4 linked regions of the Homo sapiens genome follow. The protein of the gene in region 1 interacts with the protein of each later gene in a biochemical or structural test. Each region holds a gene or a part of one and is shown on either strand. Other genes may lie near its edges.

Evidence for each region.
Region 2: the proteins of SETD7 (region 1) and RIOK1 form a complex in vitro, tested with the Homo sapiens proteins (one study listed by BioGRID).
Region 3: of the proteins of SETD7 (region 1) and KLF4, one has a biochemical effect on the other in vitro, tested with the Homo sapiens proteins (one study listed by BioGRID).
Region 4: the proteins of SETD7 (region 1) and L3MBTL1 form a complex in vitro, tested with the Homo sapiens proteins (one study listed by BioGRID).

Annotation. Positions count from the first base shown.
Region 1 is NC_000004.12:139,504,317-139,511,275, forward strand, and holds the end of SETD7 (histone-lysine N-methyltransferase SETD7), read right to left. Parts: 3' UTR 1,722-6,959; downstream 1-1,721. UniProt on the Homo sapiens protein: Histone methyltransferase that specifically monomethylates 'Lys-4' of histone H3. H3 'Lys-4' methylation represents a specific tag for epigenetic transcriptional activation.
Region 2 is NC_000006.12:7,405,836-7,414,112, reverse strand, and holds part of RIOK1 (serine/threonine-protein kinase RIO1), read right to left. Parts: intron 3,728-8,277; coding exon 3,662-3,727; intron 2,782-3,661; coding exon 2,662-2,781; intron 1,225-2,661; coding exon 1,171-1,224; intron 1-1,170. UniProt on the Homo sapiens protein: Involved in the final steps of cytoplasmic maturation of the 40S ribosomal subunit. Involved in processing of 18S-E pre-rRNA to the mature 18S rRNA. Required for the recycling of NOB1 and PNO1 from the late 40S precursor.
Region 3 is NC_000009.12:107,485,988-107,494,092, forward strand, and holds the start of KLF4 (Krueppel-like factor 4), read right to left. Parts: upstream 3,783-8,105; 5' UTR 3,186-3,782; coding exon 3,181-3,185; intron 3,064-3,180; coding exon 2,943-3,063; intron 2,281-2,942; coding exon 1,308-2,280; coding exon of another isoform or gene 1,206-1,307; coding exon 1,041-1,205; intron 1-1,040. UniProt on the Homo sapiens protein: Transcription factor; can act both as activator and as repressor. Binds the 5'-CACCC-3' core sequence. Binds to the promoter region of its own gene and can activate its own transcription.
Region 4 is NC_000020.11:43,524,344-43,532,620, reverse strand, and holds part of L3MBTL1 (lethal(3)malignant brain tumor-like protein 1), read right to left. Parts: intron 3,965-8,277; coding exon 3,876-3,964; intron 3,419-3,875; exon of another isoform or gene 3,358-3,418; coding exon 3,253-3,357; intron 2,338-3,252; coding exon 2,202-2,337; intron 1,824-2,201; coding exon 1,732-1,823; intron 1-1,731. UniProt on the Homo sapiens protein: Polycomb group (PcG) protein that specifically recognizes and binds mono- and dimethyllysine residues on target proteins, thereby acting as a 'reader' of a network of post-translational modifications.

The sequences.
Region 1 (6,959 bases):
AAGGAAAAACACATTTATCGAGCAAACCACTATGTCGTGAGGGAATTACCATGATCTATCTGTCTATCTGTCTATCTATCTATCTATCTGCAAGGTAACAGTCATTTTCTGAAATACTTTTGGAGCAGAAACCCCTTTTCTGTTTTTCCTTTTTTTTTCAGCTTCAAGAGGAGGAATGGAATTTCTTCTTCTTCCTCTTATTTTTCAACTAGAGGCTTCTTATTGAACAATCCCAAATCAGTCAGATGCTGAATTGAAACTAAATGAAACTACAGCATAAAGTCCTTCGATAGCTGTTACCTAGTTCTAGAGATGACTGCTGAAACAATTTCACATTTAATATAAACTAGCAGTCTGAATGATTCCAAACATTTAAACCCAAAGGCAGATATTGGTAACCATCCCATTAGTATAGCTGGGATGGTTACTAATTTGGTCTAACATAATTTTGTCTTAATTTTCACATTACCTCATTCTACAACATTTGGGCCCAAATCAATCATCTTAACCCATGAAAGTTGCCCAATCTTTCACTTTCAAGGTTAGCTTCTTAAGCTTCCCTCAGTCTGTATTAAATTTTTAATCCTGTATTCCCCTTTCCCACAAGGAAGAAGAATATTAATATTGTGATTTGACCCATGCGTGTTAGAGGGTGAAGCCTTGCCTGAAAGATCTAGCATGTGAATGTGTCTGTGCAGGTGGAAAAGCTGATCCAACATCAGTTTGGACCCAGTCATCTCACTCGTTTCTGTTTCCTTCCTTCCATGGAAGGAAGTGTGATAAAATCAAGGATTGGGCAACTGAGGGAGGTAAAATAAAGCAGGAGATCTCATGGCCTGCTTCAGTTTGAGGCCTAACTGTGCCTCGTGTAGCCCTGCCAAACTTCCTAGAATTCACTTCTTTGGGGTCCTGGGCAGAAGGCCCAGCTAATAATGAGGTACTATGTTGACTCCTTTTGTCACTGGCTTTTGTGCTTTACAAATGTTGACTGGCTGGGCACGGTGACTCATGCCTGTAATCCCAGCACTTTGGGAGGCCAAGGCAGGCAGATCACTTGAGGTCAGGAGTTCAAGACCAGCCTCGCCAACATGGTGAAACCCCGTCTTTACTAAAAATACAAAAATGAGCTGAGTGTGGTGGTAAGCGCCTGTAATCCCAGCTACTTGGGAGGCTGAGGCAGGAGAGTCGCTTGAATCCCGGAGGTGGAGGCTGCAGTGAGCCAAGATTGCACCACTGCACTCCAGCCTGGGTGACAGAGTGAGACTTCATCTCAGATTAAAAAAAAAACGGAAATGTTGACTGTGATTAGGGCAGGAATAAGGGATTGCCAGGGTTCTCAGCTCAGACTCATCCTCAGACTGCCAAAATCTACCACAACGTCTAACAAAATTTCTATATTTTCTTTAAATCATGAATTGAAGTTTCCTTTCAGCTATTTGCCCTGATCATCTCATTTGCATTCCATACCCTTACCATGTATGTATTCAATCCGACACTTTCTGTTGGTGTGGCTAATCCTTCTGGATTTATGGGTGTATGTGGAATCATATCAAATCCTCCGCTCTTACTAGAATGCTCTGAAAATGATAAATGGCTAATAATATTTTAAAACAACTTAAAATGTAAAGTTCACTTAGTAATTTAAATATACAGGTAGACACATTATAAGAAAACCATTATTGCTTTTCTAACCTAGATGACCAAAGGAAGACAATGACAGATGATTGTATATTTTGTTTAATACTTGCATTGTTTCTATAGCGCAATTATAGCAATCTTTAAATTTACTTTCATTACAAATATTTGTCAAGTTTTGTTTCAGAAACATTTTTCCTACTCTCTTGCATCATGCACCCAGACACACTACAAAAAACTCATTCATAACACAGTAAGGGCAAACATTATTCATGTAAACATCTTTCATTAATTTCCCATAATTTAAAAAAATCATAGAATTATAGATATTGAATAAGGCTCATAGTTTTAGTTCAAATTCCACAAGAGACCAAAGATGCTCGTTAACCGTGATGGGGTTAACTTTTGGTTGCAATAAATGCTGAAAGCATACCCCTGGCTTCTACTTCTTCAACATACCTCACAACCTAATAAATGTATTTCAGGATAAAGAGAGAACATAGAACACCCAGGAGGAAACTTTTGAAGAAGGGAGCTCAGAATCATGGACATAATTTTCCTATGTGATAAGCAGGTATTACGTAGTCCCTGTAGCTTCCCAATACATGAATCAAGGTTAATTATCATAAACCAAAATGTAACCAAGTAGATATGTTGATACATTGGCATGTGTGTTCGTATTGCTACTATACACAGTGAAAATTTATCCTAATATGTATCATTTCATTATATCCAGGACCAAAGTGGAAAAAAAACCCCACTCAAGTTGAATATCATCATAAAGGAGTTTTTGTTTGTTTGTTTTTTCAATAACATAAGAGTCAGGAGAGTTGGGAGGTATGTCCTAGGGATGTGATTGACTCTTGACATTTAACAACTTTGAACAACTGTGTGTAAAGTCACAGACAGAGGAAGCAAGGATTTTTGTTATCGGAGGACGTCTCTCTCTCTGGTTGGAAGTTTGGTGCTTGGGTGCATAGTCTTCCAGAGCTGAGACAGGAAATGTACTGTGCTGAGAAATGGGCCCCTTGCCAGATGCTCCCCTCTCCTTCCTCTCTGCGAGGCAGAAGTCAGAAGGTAGAGATTGCTGGCAAAACTGTGAAGTCCCACCCTGGGGTCTCAACCCCAACTCCACTGAGGGCAGCCTCCCTGACGTGTGTGACTAGGCAGTAAGGGTGGCGGTTGATGGCGGCCGGGAAACCGAGTTTCGAGGTTCACATGGCCAAGTCTGGCTTCTGATTCTGCTGCCCTGCAAAGAAATTGTGCTCCAGATAACTGCACCGGTGTCTCTAATGCCTCTGATTCACTCTCAGGCCCCTCAAAGGCCTGCAGTGATATCACTAAAAGGTGAACACACCTCCATTAGCACCTAACTTCCACCAGGAAGCGGCTGAGGCACTGGGGAAGCCTACGAGCTCTCTCCACGTCAGGTGCAACAACGCCGAGGAAGTTGCTGAGAGTCAGAGTTATTGTAGGCTTTTGATTTTTAAAAATCAAAATTGATCTGCATTACATCTCAATAGACTCAGATAATTCTCACCAAAATTTTTGTAATGTGTTTAAGTAGCACTGGAATAATTCAACTTCATTTAAATATATTCATTCTATCATGAAAATATTTCATACAAACATCTATTTACATACAAACACATTAAAATTTGTGAAAAGGGTTCCCACCCCTGTGGTTGTATGGCTTGAAATAGTTTCATTGCTTTGAATATGTACGCACACATTTGGCAAAAGAAAACTATTACAATTTAGTATTTTTAAAATTAAAAAAAGTGACAACGAGTTTCCAAATTCCTGAAGGGAAAGATAAAAGAAAAACAATAATAATCTATCAAGGTACCCCAAGTAGATGTAAATTTGATATACTTTGTGAACCTTTGATCTGTGGCAAATAAACATTACAACTGTCAGTCTTGCAACATAGTTTTGCTTGTTTTTCTAAAACAAAAGATATCTGGATTCTAAGTCACTACTCTTAAGACAGAAGCTTGAGGCAACTGTTTTAAAACAAAGCAAAACAGAAAATGATACCTCTACCTTCTTGGAAGATTTTAAATGCATGTTGCAGTGAGTGATTTAAATTTTTATATATTAAATGAAATTTACGAAAAGTGCCACATACTGTCTCCTGGAGAAGACAACCCTTTAATTCACTGTTCACAATTAATGCAATTTTAATAGTTATATTTAAATGTTAAAAATTGTTACATTTGGCCTCATTGGCCTTTCTGGGTGGGTCGTTGGTGATAAGGAAATAGTTTTTCGAGTGTGAAGAACCCCCATAGGGCAAATAGGTTTAACTACAGTCCTAGACAGGTTCAAAGAGCTCTTGGAAAACTAATTTCCTTCTTAGTGTCTCAGGTAGATCAAGGATGAAGCAAGTTAAAATAAGAATAGGTACTACAAGACTCAAGAACTCCTCACTGCTTTCTTTTTGATCCCATCATTCCTTTGTGTCGGAAATTCAGTCTTTCCAGTTGTTTTTGTTAGTCCATTCAAATGTCCATTTGGGGACATGCTCCTACAGGTTAGTTCCTATTCCTAACTCTAACACAAGATAATATTTCATCACAGAAAAGATGCTAAGGGAAGATCTGGTCATGCAGGAGTTGGACTGAGACAGCTCTGAGTGAATCTCCTTGAGATTACAGTGTCGCACACACACATAGGCTCCCGCTGTTTTTCAGGAGAGCATAAAGTTATTTCTTTATTCCCCACCACATGGAATCTTCCACGTCTGCTGTGATTCTGATGCGATGAAATGACCAGATGCAGCGGCTTCCTGACACATTTCCTTCCCCAGCAGATGTAAAGTAGAAAAATACATTCTGAGTATTCTTTTCCACTTGCGTTTAGGTTCAAACGGGAAACAAACCCTTCCGTCCTCAGCTGTTAATTCCTTATAGAACCTCCACTCCCTTGACTTCTTTCCCTACCTACAGAACTCAGTGAATCTCAAGCCTTACTCCGATTCCAACCTGCCACAGAGCCTTACATTTGGGAGTATGTGTGTGTGTGAGGGGAGGGGTGGGGAAGACAGAGCCAGAGACATAAGCAAACAGAGAGGCACACACAGAGGAAAAGCCAGATGAGCAGAGTCCCAAAGACATGCACAGAGCCAGAGAGACTCAAGAAAGGTCAGTGCAGGGGACTTGGAACAGGGAACAGGAGAGGGCAGCTGGGGCTGCTGTTACCCAGGATGCCCAGGCGTTCTCACATATGCAGAGAGAAGAGGAAAGAGAGCCGGCCAGAGAAAGAAGAGCTGGAAGACACAGAGAGTATGAAGAGAGTTGGGAGGAAGACATGGTGAGGCTCAGCGTGGATGCATTGCTTCCTCTGATTTGCGTGGAGGTCACAGACACACTGCTGAGTTTTAAGCTCAGAGTGTTACCATTCAATATCTCATCTGAAGAACTGATTAGCAGACTAATCACTACTTACAACTCTTCAATTCCTTCTATCCAATGTTGAAAAAAATTCCATTTGAATGGGATAATTAGAGTAGCCCCCACTTAGGACGTAAATTGTACCCCACTGCAGCCAGGACCAGAATGCTATCACTCTCAGGAATGAAATCATTCAGAGCATAGCTGCATCGGGGGCATGACCAGCACTATCCTCTCCCTGACCGTATTCCCTGACCTGGCTGCACAACCCACTTGATCGAGGTTAATGCAAGCCATCTTTCTCCTGAAGACAGTCACTCCCTTTGGGCACATTTAAATTAAAGCACCTATCAGAATGCAAGTCCAGAGGCCCTGGCCCATCCGTCACAGTGTATAGAACGGTCTCTTTCTACAGAGTAAGAGTGACCCTATCCTGGTGCCTTTAAATCTAAAAACTATTCAGTTCCTTTGGTGGGCAATCTTCCTGGAAGCACTGACAACTTCCTCTCATGGGTGAACCATTGGCTTAAGCTTTCAAGCAGGGATCCAACTGGATCTCCCTGAAACCACTGCCACCTAGCTGCAAAGCATGCAACCGGGTGCTCTAGGAAGCCTGGTGTTGCAAAGAAGGGAAGGGCAACTCTGTCAATGTGCCCAAGGGCCACCTGAAATGAAAGTCATGAGCAGCCTGGGATTAAGCACTTTTGTTGTAGTCTTCATAAAGCAATGTGCAACTGACAAGAAATAGCAAACTTCCTTCTGCCTATGTCCTCACTCTTCTTCCACTGAAGCCTTCTCTCATCAGCTGGAGCTCACTATCTGCTACAGCTTGGAAGGCCTTCGCTTTCCAGACCAAACTGACTCAGGTGACAGGAATCACAGCTGACAGCTACAGATCAGCACAACAGCTGCTCTCCAGTCCTTCCAGCCGCTGCATCGAGGTGTCTAAAAGAGACAAAGCTATGGCATGTGGTGAGGGTGCTTATAAAAAACAAAACTCTCAGGATTCATTCAGAGCAATCCCAGTGATGTTACAGATCTAATTAGCTAAACTAAAAAAACAGGGGTTTTCTCCTTATTTCTGCAGTTGTGATTACACATGGCTGGCAAAATGGCTGAAATGCTATTGATAGTGTTGCTTTTAAACTATACAGGTGTTCAGTCTTAGTTTACAATGTTTTGAAGCAGGTAAGTGCTTTGAAATTACAATGATGAAGAGTTTTAGCATCAAGGTTTGATTTGTACCTAGTAATCAGTGTGTCTGCCTTAGTAGTACTGACTAAAAAAATTTTTTTTTGAATTCTGTTAGAATTCAAATTTGCTGTTTGACTTTTGAATTCAATGCACTGTGCCACAAGCCTGACCGCGCTATGTTATGTACATTTAATGTGTACTCAAGGAGGAAAAAATTACTAGCACTACTGAAAATATTGCAAAATTGCCATAGTTACCGCTTAGAGATACTAGTTTTCTTCTCTTCTTTCTTAAAGTATATATTACAACTCTTCCATAACTTAATGCAAACAAAGTAAATTCATTTCTTCTCACATCTTAAAGCAAAGATATCTTTGTTTACATGCGAGAATAATATTCTATAATAATACCCTGGCCCTATGAGCCAGTACTTTATATTAGGACATAATAATAAAATGATGATATAGAAAGAACCAGAGAGACCTACACACTGCTATTGATGCAAAAATCCATTTGGAAGTTTTCTCTTGTAAAGGGTATCTAAGAAAGAGAATAGGGCTGAGGGGTGAAATGACTTTAGAAGTGGGCTCCTATTTACTAAGAAAAAAACCAAAGCCATTCTATTGCAAGATACAGATCAAAGGTTAAAAGGCAAATTATACTACATTTAGAGAATAAAGATGTAGTAATTGTCAACCCTTAATACGGCACATATGCAAGTGTGCTAACACAATT
Region 2 (8,277 bases), on another chromosome or scaffold:
CTGTACTGAAACATCAAAACACCAGAATGAACATCAGGAGGGAAACATGAAAGTAGCCACTCCAAGTAAGGCTCCAGAACATACTCAAATGAAGGAACCAGGGCTTTACTGCGTGACCTAGATCAACAACAGAGCTGTTCTCCTTCTTTCAGCTAATCAGGAGCATTTAGTTGGGATTGGGAAAGAGGCAAAATATACATAGAGGTAGAAAATGAAGATTTATATGGATAACTTCACAGCTGTTTTCCTGTGAACCACATTTCTAGCAATAAACTAATCCAATTGGGAGGGAAAACAATATGTGAAGAAGAGAAATTTTCATTACTTCCTGAAATTCAGCAGTTGTCTAATACAGCGCTTCCTAGCAGTTTTTAAGAGTGAGGTTTCCCTTTTATAAGAAAAAAACAGATCTTTAGAAGTCAATTGTACAACAAGATTTTCTAGCTTGCTGCAATAAAATCTTCATGCTCTGGAATCCAAAGCATAACTTCCTTATGACACCTGTTATTATAACTCAGAAATGCAAAATACCAGAATTCCCCTAATTCAATTCTTTCCACAGAAAAGACATGATTTTAAGAAAGCAAACTGTGATCCTTTATTTAAGTCTTCAATTAGGAAGATTTAAAAAAATAAAGACTGCTTTTATGACTGCCTAAGTTAGAATTACTTAATCCCTGCCCTTCTAAAATGTAAAACAAAACAAGATTGTTTTAAGAAAAAAGAACATCACAGGAATCCAGCACAGCAGGACTTGCTGAACTCATGAGATTGTTCTTTAACAAGTAATACCCTGGTAGGAGACTACATTCCAAAGTTCTCCTAAGCTGGTTGTAAAACCATCAAGAAGCACAATGGCTATCATTAAGAGCTCCACAAATGACGACCAGGATACAAAAAGATAAATACCTCACCTGCAATCACTGAACAATTCAGAGACAGAAAGAAAAATAAATTAATTTCCAAATTTCAGTGCTGTGTTTAGAAAGAACACAAAAATGGCATTTCTGAAGATGTCCACAGACTTTGAAAGCAATTATAACATTTTAACAATATAAAATAACATTTAGTTCTAATAATATTAAATAATAATAAAAAACAGTATGACTAGAGTTTATATCCTTTAAAACTGTTTTCACATAAACAAACAGTAACACATGTTCTTCATACCTTCTGAACTCCTGACAAATCTTTCTTCAATCCTGTAACAGTCTGGTATAGAATCTTATAACCAAAATGAAAAAAAAAAAATAAGGATCAACATAAAACTAGACAATGAAATATGCATATTGCACTATTAAGAACAATGTGGGTTAAATAATGTCTCCTATGATTATAAAAAGGTATCTAAAATTAATCTCACTGTAACACAGGAAGTTTATAATATTGATATTATTTCTGTCTACCAGATCTACTGGCCAAATCCAACCAGCCACCTGGTAGTTGTTTTTTTTTTTTTTTGAGACGGAGTCTTGCTTTGTGGCCTAGGCTGGAGTGCAGTGGCGCGATCTTGGCTCACTGCAACCTCCACCACCTGGGGTTCAGGAGATTCTCCTGCCTCAGCCTCCTGAGTAGCAGGGATTACAGCTGCCACGATGCCCAGCTAATTTTTATATTTTTAGTAGAGACGAGGTTTCACCATGTTGGCCAGGCTGGTCTCGAACTCCTGACTTCAGGTGATCCACCCACCTCGGCCTCCCAAAGTGCTGAGATTACAGGTGTGAGCCTCCGTACTGGGCCTTTTTTTTTTTTGAGACAGAGTTCCGCTCTGTAGCCTAGGCTAAAGTCCAATGGCGCAATCTCAGCTCACCGCAGCCTCCGCCTCCCGGGTTCAAGTGATTCTCGTGCCTCAGCCTCCCCAGTAGCTTGGATTACAGGAGCACGCCACCATGCCTGGCTAATTTTTGTATTTTTAGTAGAGACAGGGTTTCACCATGTTGGCCAGGTTGGTCTCGAACTCCTGACCTCAAGTGATCCGCCCACCTTAGCCTCCCAAAGGGCTGGGATTACAGGTGTGAGCCACTGCGCCCAGCCTACCTGGTAGTTTTTACAGATAAACATTTGCAATCAATTTGAAGATAGCAAACACAAACTTTGAGCCCCAATTAAGTGAAATATTATCTGCCCCACATCAAATAATTCCACTCTTCTTTAGTATACTTGTATTACACAAAAGTGTATTCAACTATTATTAAAGTATTTCTAATTTCACGAATAAAAATTGAGGGTGAATTTTTTTCTCTCTTGTTACATAAGGACCTACGTAATCACCTCAATTTTGTTTCTTGGCTTGCAAAGCCTAAAATATTTACTATCTGACCCTTCACCAAAAAGAAATTGTTCCTGAATGATGTATGTTAAAGAAATATATGTTAATGGACCTAATATAATAACCATTAATAGCCTAGACTTCTATCTGAATCTTGTTTCTACAATTACAGCTTGTTGGATTCATTCAAATGTGTTACCTCCTCTCATAAATTCCAAATAATTCCCTTTGCGTTCAATGTGCACACAAGTTAACACAGATAGAGTTAGTCATTTCACTAGCTCAGAAGCCAATATTCAAGATTAGGGGAACTTAAAAGGCCCAGATAGGTTTGGGACAGTCCCCTACTACTTTTGAAGAGCTGCTTGCTATATACAAACCAAGCTACTTACATTATCTTGTTGGGCATTCATGGCCATGTCCTCTTCCTTCAATTTCATAATTATGTCCATATCCCTCTCATAATTTTTCACTTCATTCAAGGTTCTAGGAATATATGCTCGCTTAAACACCTAACAGAGAGGAAAAGCAAAATCAAAACTGTTATTCATACACTTCTCACATTCACACAGCATACTCCTCCATCAGGTTACAGGGGAATCTATATATTCATTCATCCCTAACACTGATGCTTGGCTAAGCTGTCTGCACACACTGGTATCCCATCTGTGATGTGGTGTCCCAAAAGTAACACTACTAATGATAGAACACTAAATTTTGCATATGATTTATTTTAAGGAAGGGAAAAAAAACATTAGAGCTGATTCAAGATTATCCTTAGAATAACACTTCTCCTTCATTTTTGTTCCAAAAAGCTTTTCTGAGCAGGAGGGAAAGGGGCGGAATTACAGTTGGCAAGCGCTGCCTGGCTATGCCTTACGAAACATACCCAGCTGCTACAGTGAAAAAGGTGGAGAGCTGCCGACAAACACAGGGCACCTCATAGTCAACCATTAAGAGTTGTGAGAATTTTTTTTAAAAGCCTACTATGGCTCCTTCACAAAAAAACACCCTGACTCGTTTTTATCAAAGCATAATATTTAAAATCTATAACATTTCTAGAATCAATATTTAAGTCATTTAAAAACTCACATTTGCAAATTAAAAACAGGCTTTTCCTTCTTGACGCCTATATCCTAACAGGCTCTTTAAAAATTTTCTCCATCTAGGACAATGGGCTAACAGGTTGCTGAGTGGACCAATACAGTGAAATGTAAACTATCCAACTTGGCTCACTTAAATCATTTACTATAATATATCTTAAGGAAATATTACCATCATTTGAAAAAGCTGCTTATCTATTTAAATCAAGTTTATGCTCTAGCAACATAAAAAAAAAAACCCTCAAAACACAAGTGTTTCCAAAGGCTGTGAATAGATAATAAATCCTACCTCTTCATCCACATGATCTTGGCTAGACCGTTCTTCCTTGGTCCTTTGAGATGCTATTTCCATGGCCTTGGAAAGAAAACAAAAATGACTTTCTTTTATATTCAAACTGCAGAAGGCACATCCATGTCCCAGTTTTGGTATAAAATTGTTCCAGTCTTTTTAAGTATCACCTCCTCACACTTAGGAAAGCATTTAGTGAGGTCTAATGGTACAAGTTAGCTTTCCAGCACAGACCTCACCAAAAAGGCTGCCATCAACCCAAAAGTAACAATAAATCAAACTCTTCTAGCCTAGGGGGATCCCTAGCCCCCCTTTTTCAAAAGTTATGCTACTTTTACTAAATTTAAATAATTAGCTTTTGCATTTAGTAAATGCTTTAGCATTTACTAAAGGAATACAGAGACCTAAAGAATGAAAGAACCATTCCTTAAATCCTGAGCAGTCGGCGAAGGGAATTGCAAAGGCTGGCTGTAAATCTTGAATATACGGCTTTATTGCTGCTGCACTGAAGAAAGCTCTCTGAGCAAACAATGACTGAAACGAGGGTGACAAAGATTCCAAAGGGTTCTTTTGGTTTGTAAAACTGAGTGTTCTCTTCTCTATATAGAAGAAAGGAAAAAATAGTGGGAGCAGAGGTTTTTTTTTTTTTTTTTTTTGAGTTTAGACACGAAAATCAGTGCTGACCCAGGCACAGTGGCTCACGCCTCTAATCCCAGCACTTTGGGAGGTGAGGCCAGCAGATCACCTGAGATCAGGAGTTTGTGACCAGCCTGGGCAATATGGGGAAACTCCGTCTCTACTAAAAATACAAAAATTAGGCCAGGTGCAGTCTAATTACAGGCTCATGCCTGTAATCCCAGCACTTTGGGAGGCTGAGGCTCACGCCTGTAATCCCAGCACTTTGGGAGGCTGAGGCTCACGTCTGTAATCCCAGCACTTTGGGAGGCTGAGGCGGCTGGATCATGAGATCAGGAGTTCCAGACCAGCCTAGTCAACATGGTGAAAACCCGTCTCTACTAAAAACACAAAAATTAGCCAGGCATGCTAACATGCACCTGAAATCTCAGTTACTTGGAGGCTGAGGCAGGAGAATCACTTGAACCCGGGAGGCAGAGGTTGTGGTGAGCCGAGATCGTGCCACTGTACTCCAGCATGGGTGAGAGAGCCAGACTCCATCTCAAACACACACACACACACACACACACACACACACACACACACACACACACACACACACAATTAGTCGGGAGTGGTGGTGGGCTCCTGTAATCCCAGCTACTGGGTGCCTGTAATCCCAGCTACTGGGGAGGCTGAGGCAGAAGAACTGCTTTAACCTGGGAGGCGGAGATTGCAGTGAGCCGAAATTGCACACTGCACTCCAGCCTGGGTGACAAGAGCGAAACTCCGTCAAAAAAATAAATAAATAAAAGAGGCCGGGTGCGGTGGCTCACACCTATGATCCCAGCACTTTGGGAGGCCGAGGCGGATGGATCACCTGAGGTCAGGAGTTCAAGGCCAGCCTGACCAACATGGAGAAACCCCATCTCTACTAAAAATACAAAATTAGCTGGGCATGGGGGCGCATGCCTGTAATCCCAGCTACTCGGGAGGCTGAGGCAGGAGAATCGCTTGAACCCAGGAAGCAAAGGTTGCAGTGAGCCGAGATTGCCCCACTGCACTCCAGCCTGGGCAACAAGAGGGAAACTCCATTTAAAAAAAAAAAAAAGAAAAAGAAAAAGAAAGTCAGTGCTAAGTTAAAAAGTTGAGGAATAAAAATGACACACTTATTTATTCCATTAACAGATGTGATTGCCTACTATGGGCCAGATATTGGGTACTTGGCAATAGAGAAAACTCCTGTTCCATAAAAGTTCATAATTGAGGGTGACAGAATTAGGGACTTAGTATAATAAGTGACACAGTGTGACTACTTCTATTATAGTTGTAGGAGACTACACCTATGAAAACAATTTCTGCTGAAATACCCCTCCAGAGAGCTTTCTAACTGGAGCTTTAAAGTTCACCAGGCGGAGCAAAGTTGAGCAAAGGCAGAAATGGGAAGGTATTGCAAGGAAATGGAAAAAGAGGAAAGGACAGGATAAAACCTGAAGACCTGGCCAGGCAAGGCGACTTATGCCTGTAATCCCAGCACTTTGGGAGGCCGAGGCAGGCGGATCTCCTGAGGTCAGGAGTTCGAGACTTGCCATGGCCAACATGGTGAAACCTTATCTCTACAAAAATACAAAAATTAGCTGGGCATGATGGCAGGTGCCCATAATCCCAGCTATTCAGGAGGCTGAGGTGGGAGAATCACTTGAATCCAGGAGGTGGAGGTTACAGTGAGCTGAGATTGTGCCATTGCACTCCAGCCTGGGCAACAGAACGAGACTCCATCTCAAAAACAAACAAACCTGAAAACCTGTGTAGAGGCATACATGCCATGTGTTCAAAACTCTATGATTCAGAGACAAAAATAAAAATAGATAAACTGGATCACATCAAAATTTAAAACTTCTGTGCATCAAAGCTTGCAATCAACAGAGTGAAAAGACAAGTCACAGAATGGGAATAAACATTTGCAAATCACGTATCTGACATATCCAGAAAATACAAACAACTCAACAAAAAAAACCAAACCTGATTAAAAAAAAGACATGGGGCTGGACACTGTGGCTCATGCCTGCAACCCCAGAACTTTGAGAGGCCGAGACAGAAGGAGTGCTTAAGCCCAGGAGTCTAAGACCAGACTGGAAAACACAGTGAGACCCTGTCCCAACAAAATGAAAAAGAAAAAAAAAATTGGCTGGGTGTCATGGTCTGCACCTATAGTCTCAGCAGGCTGAAGCAGCTGAGGCAGGAGAACTGCTTGAGTCTAGAAGGTTGAGACTGTAGTGAGACAGGATTGTACCACTGTACTTCAGACTGGGTAACAGAGAGACCCTGTCTCTTAAAAAAAAAAAAAAAGACATTTCTCCAAAGAAAATATATAAATGGGCAAGAAGCACATGAAAAGATGCTCAACGTCACTAGTAATCAGGGAAACACAAACCAAAACCATAATAACATACACCTCACACTCATTAGGGGGTCTCTCATTGTCAAAACAAAACAAAAAACAAAATAATAGGTGTTGGTGAGGGTATGGAGATTAGTAAGTGCTGGTGAGGATGTGGAGCGATTAAAACCCTTGTGCATTGTTGGTGGTAATGTAAAATGGTGCAGCCACTACAGTAAACAGTATGGTGGGTTCCTCAGAAACTTGAAAATAGAAATATCATTTGATCCAGCAATTCTACTTCTGGGTGTATATTCGAAAGAACTGAAAGCAGCATCTTGAAGAGATATTTATACATCCATGTTCATAGCAGCATTATTCAGAATAGCCAGAAGGTATAAGCAACCCGTATGTCCATCCACAGATGAATGGATAAACAAAATATAGTATATACATACACTGGACCATTATTCAGCCTTAAAAGAAGAAATCCTAGGCCAGGCGTGGTGACTCATGTCTGCAATCCCAGCACTTCGGGAGGCCGATGCAGGCGGGTCACTTAAGGCCAGGAGTTGGAGACCAGCCTGGCCAACATGGTGAAACCCTGTCTCTACCAAAAAATACCCAAATTAGCCGGGTGTAGTGGCTCGCACCTGTAGTCCCAGCTACTCAGGGAGGCCAGGGTGGTAGAATTGCTTGAACCCGAAGGCAGAGGTTGCAGTGAGCCAAGATCACGCCACTGCACTCTAGCCTGGTGACAGAGTGAGACCCTGTCTCAAACAAAAAAAGAAAAAGATATCCTGTCACATGCTATAACATGGATGAATCTTGAAGACATCATACTAAGTGAAATAAGCCAGACACAAAAAGACAAATACTATATGATTCCACTTATAAGAGGTACCTAGAGTAGGTGAATTCACAAAGACAGAAAGTAGAATGGTGATTGCCAGGGGATGGGAAGTTGTTACTTAATGGGTACAGAATATCAGTTTGGGATGATGTAACAGGTGTGGAGATAGACAGTGGTGATAGTTTGTACCACAATGTGAATGTACTTAATGCCACTGAACCATACATTCAAATGGTTAAAGCATTAAATTTTATATTATGTCTTTTACCAGAATTCTAAAAAATTCTATATTCAGAAAGGCCTCTGAGGCCGGGCGTCGTGGCTCACACCTGTAATCCCAGCACTTTGGGAGGCTGAGGCAGGTGGGTCACCTGAGGCCAAGATTTCAAGACTAGCCTGGGCAACATGATGAAACCCTGTCTCTACAAAAAATATAAAAATTAGCTAGGTGTGGTGGCGTGTGCCTGTAGTCCTAGCTACTCGGAGACTGAGCTGGGAGGATCACTTGACCCTGAGGGGCAGAGGTTGCAGTGAACCAAGAGTGCGCCACTATGTTCCAGCCTGCGTGACAGAGTGGGATCCTGTCTCAAAAAAGAAAAAAAAAGAAAGAAAGAAAAGAAAAAAGAAAAAGAAAGAAAAGAAAAAAAGAGAAAGGCCCCTGAGAAACAAGGGAAAAGAATTAATGACCAAAAAACTGACAGTTTTCTTGCTAAACTTTCACAAACTTTGACAGTCTATGTAATCTTGCCAGATAATTGAAGTAAAAAG
Region 3 (8,105 bases), on another chromosome or scaffold:
AAAAACTGAAGGCCAGATAGTAAACCAACTCTGACCCTATCCTAAAGAAATCCAGGAATGTCTTTATACCACTGAAGGGGTGTATTGAATTCCATATCATAAACAGAAATACATTCCGTGCTTAAGTATTTGGTCTTGTTTTTAGGGGGTCAGTTAAGCACACAACCACCACCTACACCTATACTAATGTTTCACCAAAAACACACAAACACCACCTAAACCTATACTAATGTTTCATTTGAGTCAAGGCATCTCAGTGGTGGAAATGAAATTTGGAAATTGTGATTGGTAGTGTGCCCAAACCATGCAATCTTATTCCTACTACGACTGGGGATAAAAAGCCACAGGTGGCTACTTTTTTTTTCTTTACCTTTACGTTACTGAATGCTGCACCTAAACGACTTTGGGTACCTACTTACATTGACATGGAAATGCTCTGCAGTGACAACCCTAAATCAGAATCTTCCCAGCAATTTTGACCATCATATTCTTGGAATTTAAAATAAAACCTTCTGCTTGTGGGGGAAAAAAAATAAAAATGTAAATCAAAACGAACAAAAAATAAAAAATAAAAAAGTAAGACCGAATTGTTACGACCAGAATTCAAAATAACAAAAAGGGAGGGTGAACCTGGGAAGGGAACATTAAAAAACGATTTTTTTAAAAAAGCCATCATGCTTTTGCATAGCAAAGTATAATTTCTTGATTATAATGCCAAGCTAGGAGAGGCCCACAGACCGCGGGGAATCTCCTGCCTTTTAAAAGCCTAACAAAATTGCACATTCAAACACAGATACCATCCATCAAGCAAAAGGCTCCTGGGCAGAAAAGTAGGCGCCGGTTTGCTGTTCTCTCCAGTGATCCCGGAGATCAAGGCGATAGACTGCCCTGGGAAGCCAAGGAGGCACTGAGGAGTGTCCACTGGTAGCCTATGGGGCTGGAAGCTAACCTGGGAAGTCAAGGAGGCACTGAGGAGTGTCCACTGGTAGCCTATGGGGCTGGAAGCTAACCCCCCTCCCTTCTGCAGTTTGTCCCCCTACCTGTGTGGGTTCGCAGGTGTGCCTTGAGATGGGAACTCTTTGTGTAGGTTTTGCCGCAGCCCGCGTAATCACAAGTGTGGGTGGCGGTCCTTTTCCGGGGCCACGATCGTCTTCCCCTCTTTGGCTTGGGCTCCTCTGGCATGCAGGAACCGGGTGGCATGAGCTCTAGGGGTGAAGAAGGTGGGGTGAGCATCATCCCGTGTGTCCCGAAGTGGGGCCAGCACACACAGGGCTCCCCAGCCCGAGCTACAAATCCCCGGGACTGACCTTGGTAATGGAGCGGCGGGACTTGCGGCTGCATCTGATCGGGCAGGAAGGATGGGTAATTGGGCCCCGGGTGGGGATGGAAGCCGGGAGGAAGCGGCAGGGCAGGGTGACAGTCCCTGCTGCTCAGCACTTCCTCAAGACCCAGGGTCGGGGTAGTCCTGCTGGGGAGCTGCCGCCCCAGGGGGAAGTCGTGTGCAGCCGGCCGGTGGCCATTGCTGAGAGGGGGTCCAGCGCCCAAGTGGGTGCACGAAGAGACCGCCTCCTGCTTGATCTTGGGGCACGTGCGCGGCGGCCCGCCGTTGTAGGGCGCCACCACCACCGGGTGGCTGCCGTCAGGGCTGCCTTTGCTGACGCTGATGACCGACGGGCTGCCGTACTCGCTGCCAGGGGCGCTCAGCGACGCCTTCAGCACGAACTTGCCCATCAGCCCGCCACCTGGCGGCTGCGGCTGCTGCGGCGGAATGTACACCGGGTCCAATTCTGGCCGCAGGAGCTCGGCCACGAAGCCGCCCGAGGGGCTCACGTCGTTGATGTCCGCCAGGTTGAAGGGAGCCGTCGGAGGGGGAGCGGACTCCCTGCCATAGAGGAGGCCTCCGCCCGTGCCGCCCGGCGCCACGCCCGGGTCGTTCCCGGCCCGGATCGGATAGGTGAAGCTGCAGGTGGAGGGCGCGCTGGCAGGGCCGCTGCTCGACGGCGACGACGAAGAGGAGGCTGACGCTGACGAGGACACGGTGGCGGCCACTGACTCCGGAGGATGGGTCAGCGAATTGGAGAGAATAAAGTCCAGGTCCAGGAGATCGTTGAACTCCTCGGTCTCTCTCCGAGGTAGGGGCGCCAGGTTGCTACCGCCGCAAGCCGCACCGGCTCCGCCGCTCTCCAGGTCTGTGGCCACGGTCGCCGCCGCCAGGTCATAGGGGCGGCCGGGAAGCACTGGGGGAAGTCGCTTCATGTGGGAGAGCTCCTCCCGCCAGCGCTGCGGGGACAGGGCGGGAGAGACCTGTCAGTGGTGGTCCCCTGTTGCCACCCGACATACTGACGTGCTGGCGGGCCACGCGCGACTGCACCGCCCAGACATGGGGACTGGTCAGGCAGGAAGCACCCGGGAACCCAGGGCGCCAGCGCTGCAATCTCGGCCCACTCCCGGGTCGAAGAAGAGGTGATGCGTCTGTATTGCGGGTGTTATGTCCTGTCTGCCCAATTGCGTGTGAGCGAGCGCCGCGGCTGGTCCCTCCCCCTCCAGGTCCCGTGGACGTCCCCGGAATTGGCACACCGAGGCTCTCTCGGTGCGCTCTCGCCACGGGGCCGCCTACGCGCTAAACTCACTCTGGCCCAGCCAGTGTCTGGGGACGCGGCCACCTCCCGCCCGGTGGCCCGAGAGCGCCCGCCCTACCGACAGCGCGCCCGGGGACTGGTGAAGACCCGGCTTGCGCCCCAGGCGGCTCCGCAGTGCTCGCACCACGGGCATACACAGCTGAGCCAAGGACACGGAAGCTATCCCGGGAAGGTTGCGGAGTCCGCGCGGTGGCCGCTCCTTACCCTCGTTCAGTGGCTCTTGGTGACCCCAAGGCTCCGCCCGCCCCCACCACACCCACGAAAACCCACCGGGCGTTCCCGGCGGCCCGGAGCGATACTCACGTTATTCGGGGCACCTGCTTGACGCAGTGTCTTCTCCCTTCCCGCCGGGCCAGACGCGAACGTGGAGAAAGATGGGAGCAGCGCGTCGCTGACAGCCATGTCAGACTCGCCAGGTGGCTGCCTGCGAGCAAGGCAGGGAGCGGAGACAGGAGAGTCAGGGGCGGCTTTCGGCCGTCGTTCCGGCGCGTCCCACCGGTCCTCACCCCTCCCTGCTCCCAGCGCCGCGCGCCTCACCTACCTCATTAATGTGGGGGCCCAGAAGGTCCTCGGCAGCCCGAAGCAGCTGGGGCACCTGAACCCCAAAGTCAACGAAGAGAAGAAACGAAGCCAAAACCCAAAACCCCAAATTGGCCGAGATCCTTCTTCTTTGGATTAAATATAACTTGGAAGCGTCTTTTTTAAAAAGTTCCTTTGTATACAAAAGTTCTTAGAAAAGTTGTAAACGCAAAAATAGACAATCAGCAAGGCGAGTAAGTAGGTCCGGTGGCCGGGCTGCGCTCTCTTCCACTCAGCAGCGTCCCCCACCACTGTCGCGGTCGCCTCGAGTGCTGCCGTGGGCGCAGGGGCTGTGGCCGGGGCGGTGGGCGGGCGGTGCCGCCAGGTGAGACTGGCTGCCGTGGCGCGGAGCTGCGAACTGGTCGGCGGCGCAAGGCGCGGACTCCGGTGAGTTGTGTGGAGCGCGCGCGGCCATGGGCGCGGGCCACGGGCGGGTGGGAGGGTGGGGGGCCAGAGGGGCGGGGGAGGGTCACTCGGCGGCTCCCGGTGCCGCCGCCGCCCGCCACCGCCTCTGCTCCCCGCGCGCCCGCAGACACGTTCGTTCTCTCTGGTCGGGAAACTGCCGGCCGCCGGCGCGCGTTCCTTACTTATAACTTCCTTCGCTACAGCCTTTTCCTCCGCCTTCTCCCATGCCCCGCCCCTCCCTTTCTTCTCTCCGCCCCCCCCGAGGCTCCCTTCCATCGTTGCTATGGCAGCTAAATCAACAAACTCGGCGCACGTGGGGGCGGGGGAGGGGAAGGAGGGGCGCGGGCGGGGCTGGGCCGGGCCGTGACGCCAGCCAGGCAGCTGGCGGGCTGGAGCCGAGCTGACGCCGGCGGCAGTGGTGTCGGCGGCGGCGGCGGCGTCCGCCCCAGCGCGGGGCGCGAGGAACCGGGCGCAGGTTCGGTCGCTGCGCGACCAGGGCCGTACTCACCGCCATTGTCGGCTCCCTGGGTTCGAAGCCCGCGAAGACTGGTGGGGTCAGCGGGCGGCACGGTCACGCGTCCGCACCCCTGCTAGCATACGCGCTTGCCGCGCTGTCTGCGCGCTGGAGAAGAGCGCGATTATCCGCGTGACTCATCCAGCCCTCCATCTCCCCCTCCCTCTCTGCGCTCGCAGGAGTCCGCTCTCGTCGCTCAGCGCCAGTGCCGGTGGCGGTGCCGGCGCTCGGCCTGACCTCGCACGGTTCCTCGCGGGCCCTTCTGCTGAGGGGTGGGGGGCGCTAGGGGTGTGGAGAGGAGGCAGTGCCCAGCACTGTGCAGCGTGAACTGGGAGCCTCAAGAGAAGGCCAGAGGAGTGTTCCGCCGGGAACAGGCGGAAAGAGGCACGAATGGGGAGTTATGGTTTTGATACTTTAAATAGCGAGAAAGGGAGTGAAAGGGCTCAAGATTTACTCAGAGGCATAAGGGAGAGAAGAGGGACTGTGAGGCGCGGAGACAGTTTTCAACCAGCCATCTCGAAGCCCTTTCCTTTTTTTTTCTTTCTTTTTTTTTTTTTTGTGAGACAGAGTCTCGCTGTGTCGCCCAAGCTGGAATGCAGTGGCACGATCTCAGCTCAGTGCAACCTCCGCCTCCTGCGTCCAAGCGATTCTCCTGCGTCAGCCTCCCGAGTAGCGGGGATTACAGGCGTGCGCCACGACGCCGGCTAATTTTTGTATTTTTCGTGGAGACGGGGTTTCACCATGTTGGCCAGGCAGGTCTCGAACACCTGACCTCAAGTGATCAGCCTGCCTCGGCCTCCCGAAGTGCTGGGATTACAGGCGTGAGCCACTGCCTGTAATATTTGATGACTAAATTGCACTGTAGAATAATAATAATAATAGAAGACACCCATTAAAGAAGAATTAAACACTCACTGATGACTTTTCAAGCCACGCACTCTCCTTTCCACTTTATGGATGAGAAATTGAGTCATAAAGAGGTGAAATGGCCAGTAAAGGTCAAAGGACAACTCGTTCCTTCGGCTCAGGCTCCGGGTAGGTCAGGCCCCCCTAAAGGGACTTCCCTGGGAAGTGACCATGTGCCAGGAAGTGGAGCGATGCGGTGGGATCCTAGCTCTCAAAAAGTGCACACCGAGCCCGCCGCAGGCGTCCTTGCCCACCGGGAAGGGAATAGGAAACGGCGATCTTTACTTCAATCTTATAACGCTGCCTCCCCCACCCCCACTCTCCCCTTGGTTTGTGATCAGTAATTTTCCAGCTGGGAAATGTTTTGCTCTCATCTTCTTAGCAAACAGTATTTTTTTTTAAAACGTGAATGTGGTGTTCGGTATCACTTTCTAAACGTAGGTTTGGCGAGGTGTTTACTTTGGATTCCGGCGTTCGGCGCGGGACTCCGCCCCCCTCTCCACGGAGCCCCCTCACCGGCGAACGCTGGCGCTTAGGCTGGTGTCAACCTAGGAAAGAGAAGAGAGGGGACACTGGGGAAAGTGGTGGAAGCTCGGGCACCGGGCAGAGAGTGCGCTCACCCCTTTTTGAGTTCTAGTTGCCAATGTCCTTTGTCGTTGTCACCTGTTTGAACCCTGCGATTCTGGTACCTATTAGGTTTCCTCAGAATATTTGTGATACCTGATTTTTCCACTCCTCGCCGACCACAGAAGCATTCTTGGAATGCATCTCGCCCCGAATGAATTGACTCGGCCCTCCCTGCCAACGCCAGGAATCCCTCTAAGATCCAGAGTCGGACGCCCTTGAGTGTGACTTCCATCCTCTAGCTTGGCTCTGGCCAAGGGCTGCCAGGGTTGCAGCTGGGGGATGAGAGTGTTTTGGCAGGGAAACCGAGGTCCTCCTTCCTATGACCTCGAGGAGTTCAACCCCACCCCCCTATATAGGATCAGGCCAGTTACTTTAACTCTGATTTTTACTTTAAGCCCTTTTCAAACGGAGGAACCAAAAAAGGAAGACACCTGCCACTTCCTCCCCTACTCCTTTAATTGTGATGGCAACATCTTGGGATGCTGTGATTTGAGGGCTGCATGGGAAACTCACCACTTTTTCAGGAAAGCCAAAGTCCCTCACCCTGGATGAACAGTGGATGAGCCCTTGATTGGCAGCCATCTCCCTTGGGATGTAAACGTGGGTCAGGACTTGGAATTTCCAACTTAGGTAGGCAGCACACTAGATTATTTCTGCTTTACTTTTATTTCTCTAAGGCAGTAGCCCTTCCCCCTCAAAAAAAAAACTATCTGTAACCACCACAATGAAAAAACAATATTGCACAGAAGAATTGGAAAGCCACCATTATTATGTCACATAATCAAGACAAGATTCTGAAACTCGATTGAAAAAGATGAACTTGTTTCCAACCGGCCTTCTGAAGGATAAAAGCCAGTCTCTCTTCGTGGCAGGCAACTAGCTGGTTATTCCTCTGATTGCGTCACAAAGGGAAATCTGTATATTCACCCCAGATTTCTAAAAGAAGCAAGAAACTTCAAGTTCACAAATCATCTCTCAAGGCAGGTGCCCTGTATGACAACAAGGTTATGGCCCTCCCTGTCTTCAGAACAGGTAGGGCCAGAAGACTTAAATCCTTGCCCTATATAATTTATAAACATGAGGCTGAGTAAACCTTTGATGACTAAATTGCACTGTAGAATAATAATAATAGAAGACACCCTTTAAAGAAGAATGAAACACTCACTGGTGACTTTATTTCAGCAAACTGATATTACTAGTTTTGTGGACTAGAAGTTAATTATTAATGTCCTTGGAGTTATAAAATAATTTTTTTTCCAGCACAAACTGCATTAGTTGTCAGAAGATGTGATGAACACCATTAGTGCTAGGGGATTAATGTGGAGCCATGGAGGGGTGTGATAGACTGAAGAAGCTGCATCCATGTTTCAAATGAAAGATTCAGCACCCATAACTGGGTATGGGGTCTGGACACATAGAGCACCCCGTGACCTGGCTGCACCCTGGCTGGGTGTCTCTGCATAACTGCCGCAGGACTCAAGAAAAACTCAAAAAAAAAAAAACTTTTTTTTTTTTTTGAGACAGAATCTCACTCTGTAGCCCAAGCTGGAGTGCAGTGGCGTGATCTTGGCTCACTGCAACCTCCACTTCCAGGGTGGAGGTGGAAGCAGTTCTCATGCCTCAGCCTCCAGAGTAGCTGAGACTACAGGCGCGTTCCACCATGCCCAGCTAATTTTTTGTATTTTAGTAGAGATGGGGGTTTCACCATGTTGCCCAGGGTGGTCTCCAACTCCTGAGCTCGGGCGATCCACCCGCCTCCGCCTCCCAAAGTGCTGGGATTACAGGCATGAGCCACTGCGCCCTGCCTGAAAAACTGCTTTTTAAAAAAGTGAAAACAAGAGATAGATTTTAAGTACCCGAATTGCTTTGAAATGAAATCCCTGCTAATAAATAACTGTAAAAGGAGCTTGCAGCTTTCACAAGGTGGCAAAGCTTTTCTCAGTCTCCACCCTCATCTCCTTGTGAACTCCAGCCTCTTTTTTTTTTAAATTTTATTATTATTATACTTTAAATTCTAGGGTACATGTGCACAACGTGCAGGTTTGTTACATATGTATACATGTGCCATGTTGGTGTGCTGCACCCATTAACTCGTCATTTAGCATTAGGTATATCTCCTAATGCTATCCCTCCCCCCTCCCCCCCGCCCACAACAGTCCCCAGTGTGTGATGTTCCCCTTCCTGTGTCCATGTGTTCTCATTATAGACCAATGGAACAGAACAGAGCCCTCAGAAATAATGCCGCGTATCTACAACTATCTGATCTTTGACAAACCTGACAAAAACAAGCAATGGGGAAAGGATTCCCTATTTAATAAACGGTGCTGGGAAAACTGGCTAGCCATATGTAGAAAGCCGAAACTGGATCCCTTCCTTACACCTTATACAAAAATTAATTCAAGATGGATTAAAGACTTAAATGTTAGACCTAAAAC
Region 4 (8,277 bases), on another chromosome or scaffold:
CAGGGCAGAATCATAACCTGAGCCCTGAGGCACTCAGGAACCTCTGGCCTCCAAGGTGCACTCAGAGGCCTGGCTTGTGTCAGAAGGTAAGTGCCTGGAAGGAGGCTATGCGTTCGCCCAAAGAACCTGGTGAACCAAGTATAAATCTTCCCTACCCAGACAAGCCCTTCCCAGCTTGTCCTGAGGCAGTTGTGGCAACAGTGGGGTGGCTGGGAAGAAACAGCGGACATCTATGGCATAGAGGCAGACAGGGAACCAGTATAAACTGAGTACCTGCCATGTAAGCTTCAAAAGACATCACCTCCTTGGACCTTTACAACAACCCTATTCCCATTTAAGAAGTTAAATCACTTGGCCCAGAACACAATGCTAGTCAACGGCGGGGCCAGTATTTAAATAGTTTGAATTAAAAGTCGGCATTCGTTGTCACAACAGCAGGCAGGACCCCACCTGTCACCTGGGAACTTGCAAGTATGAACTCTGGGGCTGGACTGGGGTAGGGGAGTAACTGTCTCTGCCTGAAGAGCATGGTGGAGTCCTGGGCCCAGGGAAACTCTAGACATTCAATATGGTTTTTTTTCTTTAGACACAGGGTCTCACTCTGTCGCCCAGGCTGGGGTACAGTGGTACAATCATAGCTTGCTGTAGCCTTGAATTCCTGGGCTCAAACAATCCTCCCAGCTCAGCTAGCTACTGTGGTATCTAGGACTACAGGCACATGCACCATGCCCAGCTAATAATTTAATGACATTTTTTGTACAGATGGGGTCTCACTATGTTGCCTACGCTGGTCTCAAACTCCTGGGCTCAAGTGATCCTCCCGCCTCAGCCTCCCAAAGTACTGGAATTACAGGTGTGAGCCACCGCACCCAGCCAGTAAGACTGATACATACTTCTTTTTTTTGAGACGGAGTTTCGTTCTTGTTGCTGAGACCGGAGTGCAATGGCGTGATCTTGGCTCACTGCAACTTCCGCCCCCCAGGTTCAAGCGATTCTCCTGCCTCAGCATCCTGAGTAACTGGGATTACAGACACCCACCACCACGCCCAGCTAATTTTTTATATTTTTAGTAGAGATGGGGGTTTCACCATGTTGCCCAGGCTAGTCTTGAACTCCTGACCTCAGGTGATCCACCCGCCTCAGCCTCCCAAAGTGCTGGGATTACAGGCATGAGCCGCCACACCTGGTCCAGTATGATATTTTTAATGGAGGCTCCCTGTATCTCTTAGGCCTTTTGGTTGGGATTATGAGATACTTTAACTGCTGGATAAGCTGCCAGCTGCCCTGAACAGAGGAAAGGACAAGGGATGAATTGTTGGAAATAAATGGAAGAGTCTCAATGTTGGGCAAAAGGAAAGAAAAAGAAGCTCCCAGAATAGAGGCATTGACCTTACACCAAAGAACTGCAGAGCAAGCCAAAGCAAGAATATATGAGCAATGACATCTCAGTGCTCAGACTAGGGTAGTGGGCCAGGGGCTCCAAGGGGATGTGAGGACAGGGTATCTGCAGTAGCAAAGGAGGGAGGGAAGTCGGGAAAAACCTATAACCAGCTTCCCATCTCTGGCCCTGGACCCTGCCCAGCTGTACCCCTCCCATCTGATATGAGAGATCAGAACAAAGCTGAGAGAACCAGCACATGAGCTCCCTTCTGATGAGTCAGATACCCTGGGCCAGCTGCAGTGAACTCTGGCACATGGGAGTGACATCCACTCTCACTCAGGGGCACTCACGTGGCTCTGGCTCACAAACAGGTGCTTGGGGGCAGCCTGAGCTCTTGTGCTGCGCAGGTACTGGCTCCAGCTGAACTCCTCCTCCTTGTAACCTAGGCCCCTCGAGGGGCATGAACAGAGCGCCGTGCAGAGGCTGGGCCACAGCAAGGGCACCCCACAGTGAAGCAGCAGAATCAGGCATGCCTGAGGACCTCCCCCCAACCCTCAAGAACTTGCCCAGGGATTCCCCACTACTGAAGCAGGACACGACTTGAGTAGACACTCAAAGGGCAAGTGCAAAGCGGAAGTTCTAGGGCTTCTGGTCAACTTGGCCCCAGCGCAGAGTCATCAGGATGCGATGAAGAGAGGCTGGCTTTGGAACAGGGTACAGGGTCAGAAAACAAAAGAGCTGGAAGCCGGGGACCCAAGGGGAAGAAGCGAAGGGTCTGAGGACTCACTGCCTCACTGTGACCAACCCAGCTAGGCCTTACCTTTGGGAGGCTGCAGCTTGTGGCCCGTCTTCTCGAACCAGCCAGCAGGGTGAATGTCAGGGGAGTTGGCATTGACCCAGAAGTCATGGCACTCAGAATACCCATCAAAGTGCAGGCGTAGGCGATAGCCACATACCTGGCCCCATGAGGGGAATCAGGAACTCCAATGTCAGGAGATGCCCCACTCCCCATCTGCCTCACCTCTCCTGGCCCAGTCTGGTGGTCTCAGGGGCTCTAATGCTAGCAGGTTCCCCAACCCCACCTTTCTTTCCTCCCAATTGTACCCCACCCTGTCCTATTCTACAGTGAGGACAGTTCATGTACTCATGAGCCCTGAGTTCTGGATGCAAGGGAGGTGGACCCTATGACAGCTTCCTGCCCTTTTGAGCCCTGGACAGAATTCTGAGGGCAGCCACCAAGGCTCAGGACTGCTGAGGGCTCCTGATGACCGCTCCCTCTGCTACCTTCTCTCACTGCTCCCCACTCGCACTCTGCTTCCAGTCTTGCTGAGCTAGTGGCAATTCCTTGAAGGTAGCAGTCTGTTCCATGCCCCAGGGCTTTTGCCCACTTTGCTCCTTCTGCCTGGAGCTCCCTCCTTATTCACAACTTATCTCTCAAGACTCTGCAAAGGAGGCCCTTCCTCTATGCTTTTGCTGCTCCTCAGACAGAACTGACCCAACTGTGCCTCCCAGCTCAAGTCTGCTGCCACCCCTGTGGCATGTCACTGACATGTTTATTTGGCTGATTCCCCAGACAACTGTGAGCTCCTAGAGGACAAGGACCTTGTTTGACTCATGCCAACATCCCTGGCCCTCGGGATCTCCTCAAGCTCCCCCAGAGTGGACAGTATACATTCATCCAATAATAGGACTGTCCCATGAACTCCATCTGGTTTTTGTTGTTTTAAGCTTTCTATGTATTCCAGCTTCATCCACTACTAGATTGTGTGTGCTCTGAGGGGAGGGAGGTGTTTCCTTCTATGTCCCCAGCAAGATCCATCAATCTGCACTGAGAGACATCATCAGAAAGGTGGTACCAAGCCCCAGCTCACCTCAGCCACGGTGAGGATGAAGTACATGGACGGGTGTTGAGGGTCAATGCCTTCCAACTTCATGCCCAGTTTGAAGCCATTCTTGTTGTGAGTGACTGCCTGGGACTGTCAACGCACAGAGTGGAGAGGACCCAGCTTCCATCCAGCCTTATCCTTGCCTAGTGGGCTTGGGGTGAAGGAGCTGCCTTTAGGCCCCACCCGCCTGGTATTTCCAAAGGGGCAACTTATTTGGGGATCGTTACTACAGGGATCTAGAGAGAGAGAGAGAGAATATCTCCCAGGTCCCTTGAAAAATGTGGGTGAGTCAGGGCTGGACTCAAGGGCTCCCTCTCACCAAAGTCATGGAAAGATCAATGCTGAATTGAGTAGAAGTCACCAGAATTCAAAAGTCTGCAGGCCCAGTGATGAGTGAGCCTAGCTTCCACCTCTCTGTTTCTTCCCACCCTGCCAGCCCCTTATGGGGGGCCCTTTTCCACTCTGGGCCCCTAAACAGTCTCTCCCTTTCCATTCTGCCAGTCCACTGAGGCATGCCTGACACAGAAAACGCCAGAAGGCCTGAGGTTGGTGGTGTGTCCCTAGGCTAGGAAGACAAGCTGTTCCTACGGGGAAATTGTCCAACTCACGTCCTGGAAGAGGCTGACTGGAGCAGTAATGGCCTTCTGCTCCTCTAGGTAGGACTCCCACGACCAGCATTCCTTCTTCTCACCTGTTGCTGTGGAAAGGGGACAGACAGGCTAACTCCTGGGCTGTTCCTGATATATGACTTTCTTCGGCTTCCCCTGACCAAGCTCTACCTTCACCCCCAAAACAAATCTTTGTCTGTGTTCACATGTACCCTCTGGTCCCACCCACCATGATGGTGCCAGACACGGGGCTGAGGGGAGGCTCAGTCTCAGGTGTGGCTACACCAAATTCTGCCCGTCACTTCCCCCCCACCCGCTCAGGCCACTGTCAGCAGAAGTACTCTGGATTATTCAGCAACTGACTGAAGTTACAAAGTCTCAGCCACAGAGGGACCCTGTCCTCTGACATGACAAAGCTGAGTGACAAGTCCTGTGCCAGAGAACTTAATCACAATGCCATCTAAACTCACAAGGAAAGGAGAGGAAAAAGAGAAATGAGAGAGAAAACATGAAAATAGGAAGAAGTGGAAGGGTTGGGAGAAACAAGAAACACGGCTGGGCATGGTAGCTCACGCCTGTAATCCCAGCACTTTGGGAGGCCGAGGCAGGTGAATCACTTGAGGTCAGGAGTTCGAGACCAGCCTGGCCAACATGGTGAAACCCCGTCTCCACTAAAAATACAAAAATTAGTTGGGCGTGGTGGTACATGCCTGTAATCCCAGCTACTCGGGAGGCTGAGGCAGGAGAATTGCTTGAACCTGGGAGGCAGAAGTTGCAGTGAGCCAAGATCGCACCACTGCATTCCAGCCTGGGCAACAGGGCAAGACTCTGTCTCAAAAAACAAACAAAAAACCAAAAATTATCCAGGCGTGGTGGCACACGCCTGTAGTCCCAGCTACTTGGGAGGCTGAGGCAGAAGAATTGCTTGAATCCAGGAGGCGGAGGCTGCAGTGAGCCGAGAACATGCCACTGCACTCCAGTCTGGGTGACAGAGGGAGCCCCTGTCTCAAAAAAAAAAAAAAAGAAACACTTTTTTGATCCTTCTTCCCCTGAACACTTACAGAGACTTACACAAATGTGTATATGTGTGCTTGATGGGTACCCCCAGAGTGGATATACTGATTCCACAGCCCTCCCAGACACACACAGCCTATGTGCACACACACAGCCTATGTGCACACACACATACACTAACACACATACACTATGGTCAGGACCTACAGCCCAGGTCCTGTCCATGCCTCCAAGTCTCAGGGTCCTGGGGAGGGAGATGAATACTCCTGCAGCACCTTCAATCTAACCTGAGGTGGAGTCCTAGCCTCTAACAGAGGACAAACACCCTTTAAAGGCTAGAATATCCAGTTACATGTAGGCTGACCAGATTAGCATGAGCTGCCTCCAGTCGAAGGCTACAGACAACTAAAGACGTAACAACTCACAAGAATCAATTCATATCCCTTAGGTAAATAGCTCCAGCTTCTTCTAGAAACTTCTACACCTCTATTTTGTCATCTGTGAAATGCAGATACCCACCATACAGGATCACTATGATGATTAAGTCAGATCTATGTATAAAAGATCCTTATGAAATACAGAGTGCTGGACTTCTGTTACCAGTGCTTCCTGGGTCTTCACTAAGGCTGTAGGACTGGATTCTAGCTCTGCTTCTCTTGGCTACTACCCTGGATAATTCAGGCTTGGAGTGGTCTGTCTCTCAGGAAGATGCTTTTTCCCTTTTTGCTTTAGTTGGGACCTAAGTGGCTAGAGGCACCTGTTTTTTGTTTTTGTTTGTCTGTTTTGAGACAGAGTCTCACTCTGTCGCCCAGGCTGCAGTGCAGTGGTGCAATCTCAGTTCAATGCAGCTTCTGCCTCCCAGGTTCAAGCGATTCTCCTACCTCAGCCTCCGAGTAGAGATTACAGGTGCCCACCACTACACATGGCTATTTTTTAAATCTTTAGTAGAGACGGGGTTTCACCATGTTGGCCAGTAACTCCTGACCTCAGGTGATCCGCCTGCCTTGGCCTCCCAAAGTGCTGGGATTACAGGCATGAACCACCGCACTCGGCCTAGAAGCACCTGTCTTGCAGCTGCCTAAATTCCTCAGACACTGTACCAAACCTTGAGATCTCAACTGCCTGATCCAGTTGGGCCACAACAGATATTTTGTTCATCAATGGATCAAGCAAGCTATCAAACTCTCAAGGACCTACGCGGAAACCAATCTAGAGCTCATCTCTTCCGGCTATCCTTTGTCCTGAGTATAACATATCACCTACTATGTTCCCTCAAGAAACCCTCCAGTTCTCCCACTCAGTCTTCCTCCATTCTTACTGAGTAGGGCAAAGAGAAGAGAGAGTAGACTTCAGGATGCCATCATCCTGCTGCTTCTTGCCACTGGGATTCCACATCATCATGCATAAGACCTCTTCACTTTTCCCAAATCTCTTCTACTATGACAGAACCCTTCCCAACAGCCATTTCTTCCTCCCTGGATGACTTTCTTCTTTTTGCCTCACTCTTCCCAAACCGTAACATCAGCTAAGGGGCTGACTACCTGCCAGATTTCTTGTCTCAGGCGCCTCTGCTGCTCTTTGGTGCTTCAATTCTCAGCTTGCTTCCCTTTACCCATACTCCAGAGACCAAGCTCTGAGACCCCCATGCCACAGCAGACACCTCTGACCAACACCCTCTTTATCTGCCATTATCTCTTACCACTGGTCCCCTGAAGATGTCCCTCCCTGGGCCTGTACTATCTTCATATTTGCTCACTAGTCACAACACTTACCAAGTATACATTCTTCAGTTTACCACTATGCACCTCTTCATTTGACCTTCACCATTCCTTTTACCATTTAATGGTTAAACCTGTGTGCCATGTCTGGTACTAGAAATTGGGGGTACAGAGATGCCGGAAAGACTTCATATACATGGTCTCCTTGAGTCCTCATAATGCCCTTAGATGATAGGGAGGGCTCATAGTAACCCCTTTCACGGGTGAGGACAAGATTCAATGTAATCCACTGGAAAGAGGCCTGACCACCAAATCCTTCAGCAATTACTAGATTCCTTCCCTGACCAACACCCCCAGCCAAATTCAGTTTCCTGCCTCCTTTTTCTATTGTTGAACAATGGGCTGAGCTCTTAGGCATATCCCTAAACCCAAGTAAGTCCCAAGGCTCCTGTGTATGGTTGTATAATCTGTGCACTATACATAGGTACCCAGCCAAGGGTGTGAATGGGGCTAAAATCCATCCTGGGCTTTCTGCCAAGCCAAGTGGCTGAGTCTACTGTGAAGAAAGGTTGCCCTTTTCTAATTGGTCTGCCCTGGAGAGATGCTTTTTTTTTTAATAACTTGTACAAAGGTACCATATTGGCTAGCGGTGGCACTGATCCTCTCTCCACTTCCAGAAATGCTCCTTTGTTTATTCCTGCTTCCTTAGACCAGATGCTCTTGGATAGCACTTTCTTTGGCAAGCTCAGCCTGATCTAAAACCAAACTTGTAACTTCTCTGCCAAAGCCTGTGGCCCTTTCGGTATTCGTTACCCTAGTCAATGGCGCCACCATCCATTCATCCAGTCACGCAAGCCAGAAACTTGGAAGTGATACTTTATGCCTTTTTTTTTTTTTTTAACTCCCCAGGATCCTTCCATTCTACTGATTCCAACTCCTAGTTATCTCTTGGATCTATATCCATCTCTCCACATTTACTGTCCTTGCTTTGAGCCTAGTCCAAAAGCCTCTTAACTGGTCTCTGCCTCACACTTATTCTACTGCCAGAATACATATCAAATGAAAAAACGTGTTTATTTTCTTTAAGTTCCATGGCTTCTCATTTCCAACCCAAAACCCCAAAATCTAAACACCTTTCCACACCACACACAGCCTTGGTGAACTAGCTACTCCCCATCATGCCAGCTTCATCATGCATTTCCATGCCCCTGAGCCTCTGTGCCTTTGCATAGGTTGATACTTCTGCTTTAAAATCCCACCCCCACCTTGTTCTATTAGCCTATTTTTTTCACATCCTTCAAGACGTAGCCATAGTTCCAGCACCTAGCACAAGACTTACATAAAATAGATGCACAACAAATGCTTGTTAAATGACTATAAGGATGGATGGATGGATGAGTGGATGGATGGATGAATATCATCCCATCTACCCCATGGAACCTTTCTATACTCCAGCAGGCAGAGTTTGTTCTGTGACAGCCCCTTGTATTTACATACCTCAAACATAACACTTATTATATGGTTACATAATAATCTGTTGACATATCTATTTCTGCAACTAGATTATGAGCTCATTAAGTGCTAGTACTGTGTTTTGCTTACTCTGAACTCTTAGTATCTAGCCCACTATCTGGTACATAGGAGGCACTTAGTATTTGTTAAATAAAAGA